Linked DNA regions of Homo sapiens. The protein of the gene in region 4 purifies or fractionates together with the protein of the main gene of each other region. This does not show direct contact. Each region holds a gene or a part of one and is shown on either strand. Other genes may lie near its edges.

Region 1 (4,092 bases), about 41 Mb from region 4:
TCCAGGTTAGAGTCAATGGCCCCAATACCGCTGCCTTCTCTGTAGAGATTTCGGTAGATCTTTGCTGCAACACAAGGTAGCTTTGCGATTAGATCCATAGAGTCTTCATAAATCAACTGACAGAAGAGGAGCAAGATGGAGAAAAAAAAAGGAATTATCAGCAAAGAAGAATTAGGCAGGGATATCGTCTGTCCTCCATGAATTGGGGCTATTTGGGTTGATGGTTAGTTATATGATGGGTTGTTATATATTGAGTATGTTTGAAAGTAGAGAATAACAATCATAACCATTTCACTGAATAACTATTATGACCCAGGCACTAAGTGATTTGTAATACTATCTAATGTACACTAAAACATTATTCCCAATGCTTACTACTACAAAGTATATAATGACTGCCATTTTAAAGATGAGTAAACTAAGGCTCATAGTATTAGGTTAAATGCTAAAGTCAAGTTTGAACTCTGATATGGTTTTCTGAGACAGAGTTTCACTCTTGTTGCCCAGGCTGGAGTGCAATGGCGCAATCTTAGCTCACTGCAACCTCCGCCTCCCAAGTTCAAGTGATTCTCCTGCCTCAGCCTCCTGAGTAGCTGGGATTACAGGCATGTGCCACCATACCCGGCTAATTTTGTATTTTTAGTAGAGACGGGGTTTCTCCATGTTGGTTAGGCTAGTCTAGAAACTCCCGACCTCAGGTGATCTGCCTGCCTTGGCCTCCCAAAGTGCTGGGATTATAGGTGTGAGCCACCATGCCTGGCCCTCTGATATGTTTAATCATGATCTTTTTCACTACACCATGACTTGACGTTCAATGTGTTAAGACAGCAGGTTTTACAGCCAGACACGGCAGCTCATGCCTATAATGCCAGCACTTTGGGAGGCTGAGGCTGGCAGATCATTTGAGGTCAGGAGTTCAAGACCAGCCTGGCCAACATGGTGAAACCTGGTCTCTTCTAAAAACACAAAAAATCAGCCAGGCGTGGTGTGGGCCGGCGCCTATAATCCCAGCTACTCGGGAGGCTGAGGCAGGAGAATTGCTTGAACCCGGGAGGTGGAGGTTGCAGTGAGCCGAGATAGTGCCACTGCACTCCAGCCTGGACCACAGAGCGAGACTCTGTCTAAAAAAAAAAAAAGGGGTCGGGCACAGTGGCTCATGCCTGTAATCCCAGCACTTTCGGAGGCCGAGGCAGGCAGATCATGAGGTCAGGAGATCGAGACCATCCTGGCTAACACGGTGAAACCCCGTCTCTACTAAAAATACAAAAAATTAGCCAGGCGTGGTGGTGGGCGCCTGTAGTCCCAGCTACTCGGGAGGCTGAGGCAGGAGAATGGCGTGAATCTGGCAGGTGGAGCTTGCAGTGAGCCAAGATCGTGCCACTGTACTCCAGCCTGGGCGACAGAGTGAGACTCCGTCTCAAAAAATAAAAAAAAAAGACACTAGGTTTTAATAATGAATTCTATGTTCCATCTTTCAAAGAAAATTCACTGTATGTGCCAAGGATCAAACAGTGATATGCAATTGTTATTTAATAACAAAGACTTCCATTCTTTTTTTTTTTTTTTTTTGAGATGGATTCTCGCTCTGTCGCCGAGGCTGGAGTACAGTGGCGCGATCTCGGCTCACTGCAAGCTCCGCCTCCCGGGTTCACGCCATTCTCCTGCCTCAGCCTCCTGAGTAGCTGAGATTACAGGATGCACCACCATGCCTGGCTTAATTTTGTATTTTTAGTAGAGGGGGGTTTCACCATGTTGGTCAGGTTAGTCTTGAACTCCCGACCTCAGGTGATTTGCCCACCTTGGCCCCTCAAAGTTCTGGGATTACAGGAGTGAGCCACCGCACCCGGCCGAGGCTTCCATTCTTTAAGCACTTACTATGCAACAGGTACTGTGCTATCTATTTGCAGTATTACTTTTTCTTTTCTTACAATAATCCTGTAAGGTAACATATACCTCTTTTTATAAATGAGGAAATTGGGGCTTAGCTAAGTTAACTTGCACAAGGTCACCCATGTAGCCAAGAAGCGTTACCTAGCTTACATTATTAACTCATGCCACTTTTATTTTTTGAGACGGAGTCTCACCCTGTCGCCCAGGCTGGAGTGCAATGGTGCGATCTCAGCTCACTGCAACCTCCGCCTCCGGGGTTCAAGCGATTCTTGTGCCTTGGCCTTCTGAGTAGCTGGGATTACAGGCGTGCGCCACCATGCCTAATTTTTTGTATCTTTAGTAGAGATGGGGTTTCACCATATTGGCCAGGCCGGTCTCAAACTCCTGACCTCAGGTTATCCACCTTCCTCGGCCTCCCAAAGTGCTGAGATTACAGGCGTGAGCCACTGCACCCAGCCCATGTCACTTTTTAAAAAGTTGATAAACAGGCCAAGCACGGTGGCTCACACCTGTAATCCCAGAACTTTGGGAGGCTGAGGAGCGCGGATCAAGAGGTCAACAGATCAAGACCATCCTGGCCAACAAGGCAAAACCCCATCTCTACTAAAAATACAAAAATTAGATGGGCGTGGTGGCTTGCACCTGTGGTCCCAGCTACTCGGGAGGCCAAGGCAGGAAAATTGCTTGAACCTGGGAGGCGGAGGTTGCAGTGAGCCGAGGTCGTGCCACTGCACTGCAGCCTGAGCGACAGAGACTCTGTCTCGGAAAAAAAAAAAAAAAGTTGGTAAATAAAAAGCATATATTTTTGGTTTATTTTATTTTGAGACAAAGTCTCGCTCTGTCACCCAGGCTGGAGTGTAGTGGTGCTATCTTGGCTCACTGCAACCTCTGCCTCCTAGGTTCAAGCGATTCTCCCACCTCGGCCTCCTGAGTAGTTGGGATTACAGGTGTGCACCAGGACGCTCAGCTAATTTTTGTATTATTTTGTAGAGATGGGGTTTCGCCATGTTGGCCAGACTGGTCTTGAACTCCTGACCTCAAGTGATCTGCCTGCCTTGGCCTCCCAAAGTGCTGGGATTACAAGCATGAGTCCCCACGCCTGGCCTACTAGCAAAACTTGATCTGTCAGCTACTTCACAAATTTGACTAAATTCAACAGCTTAAGGCTACTTCACAATTAAACAGCTGGTTGCATCAGAGCAATCAATCTCCTTGTTCTGAGTGACCTTAAGTCAATTAGAGGCCTAGAAGCTAGTTAAACTCTTTCAACTCAAGAGATTACACTATTCATCTAGAGTTAATGGAAATTATTATAGAAGAAATGTTCTGTGCAGAAGATCATCCTCTTAAGGTATATGTAAAAACAACTCCTTAAAAGCTCAAGAAGGCTGGGCACCATGGCTCACTCCTATAATCCCCAGCACTTTGTGAGGCCGAGGCAGGCAGATCACAAGGTCAGGAGTTCAAGATCAGCCTGGCCAACACAGTGAAACCCCGTCTCTATTAAAAACACAAGGCCAGGCGCGGTGGCTCACGCCTGTAATCCCAGCACTTTTGGAGGCTGAGGCGGGTGGATCACGAGGTCAGGAGATCGAGACAATCCTGGCTAACACGGTGAAACCCCGACTCTACTAAAAATACAAAAAATTAGCCAGGCATGGTGGCGGGTGCCTGTAGTCCCAACTACTCGGGAGGCTGAGGCAGGAGAATTGCTTGAACCAGGGAGGCGGAGCTTGCAATCAGCTGAGATCGCACCACTGCACTCCAGCCTGGGCAACAGAGCGAGACTCCATCTCAAAAAAAAAACCAAAAAAAAACAAAACAAAAGCAAAAAAGCAAAAACCAAAAATTAGCCAGGCGTGGTGGTGCGCACCTGTAGTCCCAGCTACCGGGGAGGCTGAGGCAGGAGAATCGCTTGAACCCAGGAGGCAGAGGTTGTGGTGAGCTGAGATTGTGTCACTGCACTCCAGCCTGGGCAACAGAGCGAGACTCCATCTCAAAAAACAAAACAAAACAAACAAACAAAAAGGCCCAGGGTGGTGGCTCACGCCTATAATCCCAGCACTTTGGGGAAGAGGTGGGCGAATCACCTGAGGTCAGGAGTTCTGGACCAGCCGTTCTAGACCAGCCTAGCCAACATGGTGAAACTCTATTAAAAAGACAAGGCCAGGCGTGGTGGCTTAAGCCTGTAATCCCAGCACT
Region 2 (4,092 bases), on a different chromosome or scaffold from region 4:
AAAACTCCTGGGCTCAAGTGATCCCCCAGCTTTGGCCTCCCAAAGTGCTGGAATTACAGGCATGAACTTTAAAATATAAAATCAAATTATTTCTTTGCTTGTTATTTCCCTGGCCTAGGAATGTTAAGCTCCTCAAAAGATACAAGTTATCCCACAACTTTAGTTTTCAAACATGATCCCAGTGAAAAAAAATGTATTTAACTAATAATGTAAGAGCTTTGTTTTCTAAGACAATCTATGTGTTCATCTTGTTTTTTTCAAGAACCCAAATTTTGACTCATTATCACCTATGTTAGTATCACTTGTTATGTTCTAATGTACATGTTCTTTTAATGCTTCTTTAAAAATCCTTTATGTTTTTGAGTACATATTATATGCCAGAAAGTGTTTTAGGCAATAAGCAACACATTTATTTCTAGTTGCCCAAAGAATTTAACTTCTCAATCTATCTAAACTTTCACTAAACCTTTCCAAGGTGAGATGATTACTGAAATCTGATTTACCTCGAAAACCTCTAAGCTATCAATCATTGAAAAAGCATAAACAAAGAAAACACCTTGACATGTGAGTCATTAACTAAATAACTAGTTTATAAAGGACAACTAACTAAACATTCCCTGGAAAACCCTTTCCTACTGTAATACTCTCTAAAGAGTGATGAAGCAATATGAACTCCATAGTTTTCCTAAATTAAAATCATGAGCTGAAGAAGGTGACATTCAGGTCTATTATAAAGACGCACCTATGCCATCAATTCTTGCTTTTCAGTAAGCTGAAATCCTCAAATCCCAATTCCAGTGCCTATAAGCAGTGCCCTGCATCATAAAATAATACATTTGCTTTAAAAACTATGAATCCATACCTGTATATACATCCCATATTTTGATACGCCCATTGTTCAACCCTGTAGCAAGAAGTAGCTGATCTTGTCCAAATCTGAAGCGATGCCATTCTATATTTACACAGCGACTCTGTTTTTCTGGAACTGATGACCCAAAAGCAAGACTCCAGACTATATCTCCACAGTCTATAATATGTTCACGAGGCTTATTTTTCTGACCACCATCACTATTTTGTCTTGGCAATCTTAAACTGCTTGAATTGGTAACATTCTTGGTGCCATGCAAGAGACTGGAGTGGGGGAAGTCAGATGGAAATTGTATTATTATTCACTCTGGACTCCTCTGGACATTGAATAATTACAAGTGTTTGTTAAAATAACCTCAATATTATTATAATGACACCAAATAACAATAGAATCCTATAGATAGGAAGGGAAAGGTTGATATTTGAACTACGAGAGAAGGACATTAATAGAAATTCTCAGTGACTGAGTAGTAAGTTCAACAATAAAGCAATTTATATTATAACTTATTTGCCTCCCAAATTTTCCTCAAAACCACCGAATCAACTGGTGCTCCTTCAACCTAAAAACACAAGTATAAATAAGCAAAAAACAAACAAACAAACAAAAAAACCCAGTAACTTAAGATATGGTCAAGCTGATATCAGAAAATTGCCTTAAAGGGGGAAAAAAATCCTCAAACCATAATGATCAGTTTCCCATAGGTTCCAGACCTCAAGTTATATGTAATGAGAACATTAGTGACTATAACCATGAAGGTCTGCTAGACACAAAAAAAACAGGGAAAGATCCAATATAGCACATGATACATTTTAGAAAAACTTTCAACAAACATCCAAACTCAATTTACCCCAAACAGAGGGACTATAAGTCCATTAAAAACAAAAACAACAACAACAACAACAAAGGGCCAGGCTCGGTGGCTCACGCCTGTAATCCCAGCACTTAGGGAGGCTGAGGAGGGTGGATCACCTAAAGTCAGGAGTTCGAGACCAGCCTGGCCAACACGGTGAAACCCCTGTCTCTACTACTATGCACCAGGGTTATCCAACAAAATGTAAAATCCAAAGTGAATCCAAAAAGCTTCACATCACAGAAGTCACCTACTCTGGCACAACACTATATATATATATACACTTGTTAGACACAATCTGACTTTTAACATACAGAAAAACTTAATGTATAAATAACACCAGACAATTCTTTTTTTTTTTTTTTTTTTGAGACATTATTTGGCTCTGTCACCCAGGCTGGAGTGCAGTGGTGCTATCTCGACTCACTACAACCTCCGGCTCCTGGGTTCAAGCAATTCTTCTGCCTCAGCCTCCCGAGTAGCTGGGACTACAGGTGTGCCACACCACGCCCAGCTAGTTCTTGTATTTTCAGTAGAGATGGGGTTTCACCATGTTGGCCAGGCGGGTATCAAACTCCTGACCTCAAGTGATCTGCCTGCCTTGGCCTCCCAAAGTGCTGGGATTATAGGCCTGAGCCGCCGCGCCCGGCCCAAAGAATTCTTTACACAAAATTTCCAATAAATATATTCAGCCCATGATTAAAACTCACGACATCATCTATAAAGTAAAACTTAAATATCAAAATGTTTTTATTACCCTACACTGAGAGAAAATGGTAAATTCCACAAACAGATACAAAATACAGAAAAGTAACAGTCTTACAAGTTCTGAAGGCACTGGGACCACGGAACAAGCTTTACTGTGCGATGTCCTTGTGACCAAGCAAAGTATGAACCATCTGGAGCAAAAGCAACAGTCCAATTTTCACGACCACATTTCTTGTCAAAAGGAGCTGCAGGAGCTAAAAGTTCACCTATAGTACGTAATCTCACTAAAAGGAAAAATAAAAATACTGGATATCATATATAACCAACAATACATGTGAGACTGCTTCCATATTACTTTGGGATTGAGTTTCTTCCCTCTTCTATGCAGACAGGGTATAGTGAGTTCTGCATTCCATCCTCTAACGGGGGGTATGCAGTATATGAAGACCCCTTAACGATAATGACTATCTCCAAGTTTTGATAAAGTGATTTCCCTAAAATTTCCCAATGCAAGAGTTTTTAAGAAAGTTTCCGTAAAAAAAACTGGTCAATAATAATGTAATGACCAATTAGACCTAACAATTACAAAAGTCCTAACTTTTGCATTGTATTACGTTCTCATCAAATTATTAACATTTAAAATGCAAGAAATTAAACTTAGTTGGCAGGAAAAGTATCTTCCAAATTAAGTTTCTTAGCTTTCAAAAACCATACCTCACCATAAAATACAATATTACACCATTACTCAAAGGAAAGCACTACAAAATACACTATCCAAACAAGTATTTTTACCCTTTTCAGGCCCAGGTCACAAAAATCACAAAACCCTCAGAACTAGAAGAGACTTACAGGTTGTCTAGTCCAACCCTCCAAACCAGTGCTTTAAAAAGGCATTATAGGCCGCGTGTGGTTGCTCACACCTGTAATCCCAACATTCTGGGAGGCCAAGACAAGCGGATCACTTGAGGTCTGGAGTTTGAGACCAGCCTGGCCAACATGGTTTGAAACCCTGTCTCTACTAAAAATACAAAAATTAGCTGGGCGTGGTGGTGGGCGCCTGTAATCCCAGGATGAAGCAGGAGAATTGCCTGAACCCAGGAGGCGGAAGTTGCAGTAAGCCAAGAAAGTGCCACTGCACCCCAGCCTGGGCGACAGAGTGAGACTCCATCTCAAAAAAAAAATAAGCTAAAATAAAAGAAAATGCATTATAGCCGGGCATGGTGGTATGCTGGAGTGTGTCTGTAATCCCAGCTTCTTGGAAGGCTGAAGCATAAGAACTGTTTGAATCTTGGAGGTGGAGACTGCAGTGAGCCAAGACTGCATCACTGCACTCCAGCCTGGGTGACAGAGCAAGACTGTCATAAAAAAAAAAAAACAAAAAAAACCAAAATGCATTATATTTGTGATTCTCAAATACTGGTCCTTAAGAGTCTTCCTAATAGGCCTCAAACTGACTCAAAAATGGAATTATTTTGGTTTTTAAGGACAAAAAATGGACAATGTCATATATTTTAAATTCAGATTACTCAAATTTTGTATTCCTAACAAAAATTGGCATATTACCAGAGTATATGGAGAATATTACTTCCATATTTAACAAAAAGCATGATCAACAAGCTCATACTGCAATGCATGCATGCAAACTCAGCTACAATTTCCTCAATTT
Region 3 (2,922 bases), on a different chromosome or scaffold from region 4:
TTAGAAAAAATACGTGGAATGATTTCTATCTTCTTAGGTTTGTTTAAACTCGTTTTGTGAACTAACATATGATCTATCCTACAGAATGTTCCGTGTGTGCTTGTTCAAATCAGCTGTTTCTTTATTCATTTTCTGCCTGGATATTCTATTATTGTAAGGGGGGTATTGAAGTCTCCTACTATTGCTGTCAATTTCTGTCGTCAGAACTGTCATTATTTGCTTTACATATTAATGTAGTCTGATGTGGGGTGTGTATATATTTATAATTTTTATATTTTTCTGTGGAATTGATCCTTTTACCATTACATAATAATCTTTGTCTCAAGTTTTAGACTTAAAAATCTATTGTTTCTGATATAATTATAGCCACTTTTGATTTCTTTTAGCTACCATTTATATAAAATCTTTTTCCATCCCTTCACTTTCTGCCTATGTGTGTCTTTAAATATAAAATGAGTCTCTTGTAGATAGTATATTATTGGATCCTGTTTTTATTTTTATTTCATTTTAAACAAAAAGTTTATTTAAATAAGAAGCCTGACTTGAAGGAAAAACTTTCTAGGATTCTTTCTTTTTTTTTTAGAGTAATTTATCCCTACTTAAAGACAGATTGCCCTACATGTAACAGCTATGTACACAAAAGTTATAAAATTGTCCTTGGTTTTACAATGATAAATGAAAAACATGAAAATCCTCCAATTGAACAAGGTATGTGAGAATTTTTTTTTGTTGTTGTTAAAACAGTGAGAGCAAAATAACTTACTAGAATATAAAGATAAGACCTGAATGAACATGCCACTAATGGATAAAGGGGGTATTTTCACAGAATCAGTATTTTTTCCCATCCTGTCTCCACTTGATGTCAATCAAAACATACCATTGGCTGTTTGGTTTGAAGAAAAAAGCAATATGCTTGTGTACACATACCAGTTACTTCATGTATAATAAAAGAATGTGGAAGGGGGAAACAAAAGAATAGAGAAAACTATACTGTAGTAGTCAGAATGTGGTGGAACCAAATTGCAGTTTTCTAATTGAGAATGCAGTAATCTTGGTCTTTAAAGAACAGCGTTCTGGAGTAAAGAAGCAGGTTCCCTTTTCAGTAGACACCTCCCGTAGGCTGTTGAAACACATCAATTGTATCTTCATCTTCCATTTCCAACTGTGCAGGTTTGTCTGTTCCACTGATTGGTTGCCCACCAAATCGGAATCTGATCTGCTTCACTGACAATCCCCGTGGTTCACAATAGGCTTTCATTAGTTTACTAAGTGGTGTCTGCCTCTTAATCTTAAACTGCACCACAGAACCATCCTGTCCCGCCACCTTCAAATTAATATGATTGTTGTTCTCAGTCTTGACTTCTTCTGTGGGCTTTTCGTTGGCCATGGTGAACACCGGAGTCTCCTCAGCTGCTGCTTCACAAAAGAGGTGGCGGGTCCGCACCTAACGAGTACACGAGCAGCAGGAAGAGCAGCAGGAGGTGACAGCGGTGGATGAGGGAGAGGGTGCGTGCACATCCTGGGCTCCCTCCCCTCCCGCTGTGTGCGCCAGCACGAGCTGTTGGGGCCTCCCATTGGCTGCTGCCAGATCCTGTTTTTAAAATCCATTCATACAACTCCTTGTGAGTGGTGAGTTTAATCCATTTCCAGTTAAGGTAATTACTAATAAGTGAGGACTTACTATTGGCAGTTTGTTGCTTCCTGTCTATTTGACAACTGTTTTGCTCCTCTTTTCCTCTTATTGTCTTGTTATTCGACAACGTTTAATCGTGATTTACTTTGATTATATTTGGTTATACTCTTCTATTTTAAGTTGATAACAACTTAACTTCAAATGCATACAAAAATACTACTGCATCTTTACAACCTCCACCCTCCCACACTTTTGTGTTCTTGCAGTTTTCTTCTTTTAATATTATGTATCCATTAACACATTTTTACCTTTTAACTTTCTTATTAGAGTTGAAAGTAAATTATATACCACGGTTAAGTGTTAATCTGTAAATATGTCTATATTTTTACCTTCAGCAGTGATATTTATGTACCTGTTTCCATTTCTACACACATTTTAATGCCTGGATCAAAACACACAGACATACTTTGAAATGTCTTAGTTTGGTGTGCATATATTCTGAGAATATCAATGATGTAAAATGATAGAAGGTAGAAAACTATTCACCTGGAATTTAGGGTATTTTGATTACTTAAAGTTATATATAAATTAAACTAAATACTCATGGGGGGGGGGAACTTCCCTAAGGTATCTTCCTTATCATTTGTCTAAAGTTTTAAATGATACAAATTTTTGTACTTAGTAATTGTTTTTTAACCAAGACTTGCTATTATTGGTTGGGAGTACATAGTGTTTCCTAAGCTCGTGCATATTACTTTTAAAAAGCTAAGAATATTACATCTTTGCATCCTTCCCAACCCCAAGCATGTAAATGAAAATAAGCAAACATCTTCTTAATGAATTCATTTAAGAATGCCAAAGTTTGAAGCAATTCTAGAGAGGAAGGTTGCTGAACAGGAAAAATTTTCTAAAATTTTGCTTTTCAAAAGTAACAGTTTTCACATTTAATGGATACACTAACCTTTGGGTTTTGGTGGCACAGGACCTACAAATCCAATATTGTCATAAAAGTTATGAATAGCGCTGGGGTTAAAATGTGGTCCTGAAATATATAAAAAGTAAATATATCAATGCTTATAGCTCAAAAACAACTTTACTTTTTAAAACAAGTATTTCTTTCTAAAAATAAACACGCTATAAGAAATGCTTTTCATTTATTTTGCCCCTCTAACCTCGAATTATATGTAAGATTTCAAAACATATTTCAAATATATTATCTTAGGTATAATGTAGTACTCATAAACACGGGTAAGTGGTAAACTGTGAAAGAAGTCAAATTAATGCTGGTA
Region 4 (4,092 bases):
AGAGTTCTTATTCCTGGTTTGTGTTATTGCTGCCCGGGATCCTGTATTCAAGGCTACACTGGCATACCCAGAGATGAGTCTCATGTTGCCCCTGAAACGTCAGCAACATTTATCTGTGCAATAAGCACATCCTGAATCATCCTGTGTTGTGTTACTCTCTGGTGTCCACAGCCAAAGAGTGAATTTTACCGCTGGTAAAAATTCACTTGGGCTTTCTTAAAGAGCCTAATAATCTTAGCACAAACGGTCATAAAAAAAATTCTCTCTCAATTCTGTCTAACTTTTCATGCTAATTTAAAACTTTTGTGAATATATTGAGATACTGAAGGCAATGGCTTCCTTAATGCACAGTTTTCTTTGAGAATTATTTAAAATAATATTTGTGAAGGTACTTGGTGGCATGACTTCACACGTTGGGCACTCAGCAAAGCTCACGGGATCTCTTTGAGTTCTCTCTCTTTGTGCATATGAATGTGGGTTAGAAAAACACACTAAAAAATGCACAGGCAAGAAATAATAAATTGTTTCTCTCACAAAGACAAATGGTAAGAAATTACGTTTCTAGTAATTTGTGCCCTTCTCTGGATTGATTACAATATTTATTGTCTCTTACAAAATAATCTTGTCTTTGGTTTTTCTCATCCAGTTTTGAAGTTTTCGTAGTCCTTCATGGGGCTGAGGTGGTAGAAAGCAGCACCGCAAAGTGGGGAGTATGGATTCCTCCATGTCACCAGGGACAGGGGCGGTGGGGAGAGGGTGGAATCCCGAACCAAGAAGGCTTCTGGTGTCCTGAGAGACAAATTTGCAATCCCGTAATACACCAAATTGCCAGGCAAGCAGCACAGCACATTCAAATCCTTGACTAGCTCTGAAATGTCAACAGTGTTTTAGAGATGGCCTGACTCTCCAGACCTGCACTAGACCCACAGCCCGATTTGGGGGAAGTCAGACATATCCTAGTCAGCAGGGAAAGTGGAGGTAGCAGGAGTTACAGAGAATGCTGATGCTCACATAGGAACTTCTCTGATAGAAATCCCCTACTTCTGGTATTTCCACTTTTCTCTCTCTCTTCCCTCTCTCTCTTTCTCCCTTCTCCCTCCTCTCTCTCTCCTCTTTCTCTCTCCCTCTTTCCCCTCTTCCTTCTCTCTCTCTCATCGCTATCTCTTCTACCTAATACATTAATATCCATGGCCTGTGTGTCTAGATGCATAATCCAGCACAATTTTGCAGATCCAGCTTTGGGCCGTGAGTTAAGTCTCTGTGGTATTTTGCTCCAGAGCCAGAGGGAATTCTCTTCATTAGCTGTGCCTGTGTTCACTGACATTTCTCATCATTCGCAGAGTGACCTCTGGCTTCAATGAAGACAGGGAGCAATAAATAAAACCTAAAATTAAATTGTTTACATGAAAGTTTTTAAAAGAAATATAATATAGTCTCATTTTAAGGTTGATTCAGTTTTTAAACAATCCTTTCAATTCCCCAGAACTTCTTATCTCTTTAATACTCCTCAAAGACAAAAATCTATTTTTAAGGAGGAAGGAGTGGGGACATAGCTCCCATCCAGGGGAAAGTATTTGGTGTGGAAACAGTTACCTAGCTTCAGTGAAGCTTTGCAACAAAGCAGACCACACTGGGGCAGGGAAGGAAGAAGAGGAAGGGAACAAATATTCACGGAACATCTATTCTTGACCAGTATAGTCCTATAATTTTTCATGTGTTTTCTCCAATCTTTCAACCCCGTAAAAAAGAATATCCCCATTTTAGTGGTGATAAAACTGAGGCTCAGTGAAATTAGCAACTTGATTGAGTCCTGTCATAATGCAGAGCCTGGTTTTGAATCCCTGGTCCATCTGACTCAATCTATGTTCTATGAGACATGAAAGTCACCTTTCTCTGAATTACCCAGGTAATTTGTTTAATCTAAACTCAGGAGTTCTACCTTTTCTTGTCCTCAGTTCATTTAGAGCTGCATTAATGAAACAGATGATGCTCTATCCTGACATGGGTGTAAATTTTTAAGTGTAATTCACTTTCAAAGTCTTGGAAATTTCACTGAATTTGCAAGCAAAAACATTGATGTGTGCTATGTCATATGCATGCTGTGAGTAACCATCCTAATTTAATTCGACATTTTAATTGAGCCTGAGAAGATTAAGTCCCCATCTCAGCACATCTAATGCTTGCCAGTGCTTTGCTGAGTAGCAAACATGAGGATGTGAGGCCTCCAATGTGAAAGTTAATCTGTATGCGCATCTGTGAAGCAGAAAATACAGAAAACTAGAGTAGCAAGCCTGTGTGAAAAAATGATATGTGCTTTGGGGCCTAATAAATGGGGTCCACATTAACCTGGTTAAACATATAACTGTTCATTCTCCATTTCATTTTTCCTGTGCAAAGGACCAAAGTCAAAAATAAGCAAAACTCAGCTCTGCCCTTTGTAGAATAGGGGATGAGCAGCTGAGGAAGGTGAGGAAAGCCCATCCAGAAGATTCTATGCTGATGGGCTGAGTCCTCCCCAATCTCCCTTTTACTTCCTCTTTTCTTTTCTCATTTCACAAGCTTCTTTAAATTAGGGAGCATTTGAGTCATTAAATTAAGAAGGGGCCTCAGAGATCCTCTCATGCCACGGCTTCTTTTTGCAGAGGATGAAACTGGGGCCCAGTGAGGTTAAGCAACTTGCAGGAGGTAACGCAGGAACCGAGTTGCGCTGAAACATCGTTATCTGACACTTCCCTGCTTTGTTAAAGCTGTCTCTGCAGAGCTTGCAAAGAAGCATTTACCTCTGCTTGTGCACCTCCAGGTAGATTCCCAAGATGACTAACAAACTCTAATTTTATTATAACTTCTTAAAGATGACTGAAGCAATAAAGCATAGTGCCTAAAAGTCAGACAACCTGGGCGCAGACATTAATTCTGCCTACCACGTGGTATGTCTTCTTAGGCAAGTTACTTAACGTGAACTTTAGTTTCCTGGTCTGGAAAAGAGAATGATGATGCCAACAAAGTTACTGTAAGAACTAAATGAGATAATCCTCTAGAAAGCACTTAGCACTACATGTGATAACTATTATAATTTGTATTAATAATATCAATATTATCAATAGGAAAATCAGTTGTCCTTTAGATGATGGGATTGGAAAACAGTCTGTAGAATTTTCATAAAATTCCTATTCTCATTTCAACACACATCCATAAAATAGGAGGATAAAAAGAGAAAATTGTTGTTTGTGGTTAAATATGCACACAGATAATTTGAGAAATCATTGTCAAACTGTATATGCCATTTATGGCTGGGGCTTCGGGAGAAACTGAGGTTACCCAGAAATAACGTTAAAAATGCAGTACAATGCTTAATAATATTGTATTGTACTTGAGTTTTGCTGAAGAGTAGATTTTAGGTGCTCTTGCCACACACAAAAAAAAGTGGGTGAGATGATGGATATGTTAATTTGCTTGACTATAGTAACCTTTTCACTATCTATGTATCCCAGACATATTTTACATCTTAAATATATACAATAAATACTTTTTAAGAAATTGATTCATAGGAGGTATTTATGTATTCCCGATATCAATCTCTTGTTAATACATGCATTGCGAATGTCTCATTTTTAGAATCCAGACCATTACTCTTTTCACTGTCTATAGGGTGATATTAGGAAAGGAATTTTAAATGCTTGTGTAATTGAAATATTTAATATTTTCTTCTATGTCTTAGTTTTTGCACTTGTAAAATGTAATTGTGCCTACCTCACAACATTGCGATGACTGAATGAAATAATGCATGCCAAGCACTTATCCCGTACTAACTGAGTTTTTGGCTCACAAGTGTTCAGTAACAATTTGCTATTACTATTATGGTACCCTTTATTATGCAAAGACCTGTTCAGTGAAAGAAAAATAATTTTATGTCTGGGAGAAAAATAAGTAAAATAAAATAAAATAAAATATGCAGCATCTGTTGGGGATTCACATACATTTTATTTTTTAATTTTTAAATTTCCTTTTAAAGATGAATTTTATTGCATATATTTAAGGTATACAACATAATGTTTAGGGACACACATCGATAGTAAAAATGTTAGTGAAGCA

What was found.
Region 1: the proteins of ARHGDIB (region 4) and CS fractionate together in Homo sapiens (co-fractionation; one large-scale study listed by BioGRID). This does not show direct contact.
Region 2: the proteins of ARHGDIB (region 4) and WSB1 purify together in Homo sapiens (affinity purification with western blotting; one study listed by BioGRID). This does not show direct contact.
Region 3: the proteins of ARHGDIB (region 4) and SUMO4 fractionate together in Homo sapiens (co-fractionation; one large-scale study listed by BioGRID). This does not show direct contact.

Annotation. Positions count from the first base shown.
Region 1 is NC_000012.12:56,276,080-56,280,171, forward strand, and holds part of CS (citrate synthase, mitochondrial precursor), read right to left. Parts: intron 117-4,092; coding exon 1-116. UniProt on the Homo sapiens protein: Key enzyme of the Krebs tricarboxylic acid cycle which catalyzes the synthesis of citrate from acetyl coenzyme A and oxaloacetate.
Region 2 is NC_000017.11:27,300,406-27,304,497, reverse strand, and holds part of WSB1 (WD repeat and SOCS box-containing protein 1), read right to left. Parts: intron 2,711-4,092; coding exon 2,542-2,710; intron 1,132-2,541; coding exon 863-1,131; intron 1-862. UniProt on the Homo sapiens protein: Probable substrate-recognition component of a SCF-like ECS (Elongin-Cullin-SOCS-box protein) E3 ubiquitin ligase complex which mediates the ubiquitination and subsequent proteasomal degradation of target proteins.
Region 3 is NC_000006.12:149,398,857-149,401,778, reverse strand, and holds SUMO4 (small ubiquitin-related modifier 4), read right to left. Parts: upstream 1,518-2,922; 5' UTR 1,388-1,517; coding exon 1,100-1,387; 3' UTR 501-1,099; downstream 1-500. Other genes in the region: TAB2 (TGF-beta-activated kinase 1 and MAP3K7-binding protein 2), read right to left, coding at 2,595-2,675. UniProt on the Homo sapiens protein: Ubiquitin-like protein which can be covalently attached to target lysines as a monomer. Does not seem to be involved in protein degradation and may modulate protein subcellular localization, stability or activity.
Region 4 is NC_000012.12:14,954,884-14,958,975, reverse strand, and holds part of ARHGDIB (rho GDP-dissociation inhibitor 2), read left to right. Parts: intron 1-2,642; exon of another isoform or gene 2,643-2,800; intron 2,801-4,092. UniProt on the Homo sapiens protein: Regulates the GDP/GTP exchange reaction of the Rho proteins by inhibiting the dissociation of GDP from them, and the subsequent binding of GTP to them. Regulates reorganization of the actin cytoskeleton mediated by Rho family members.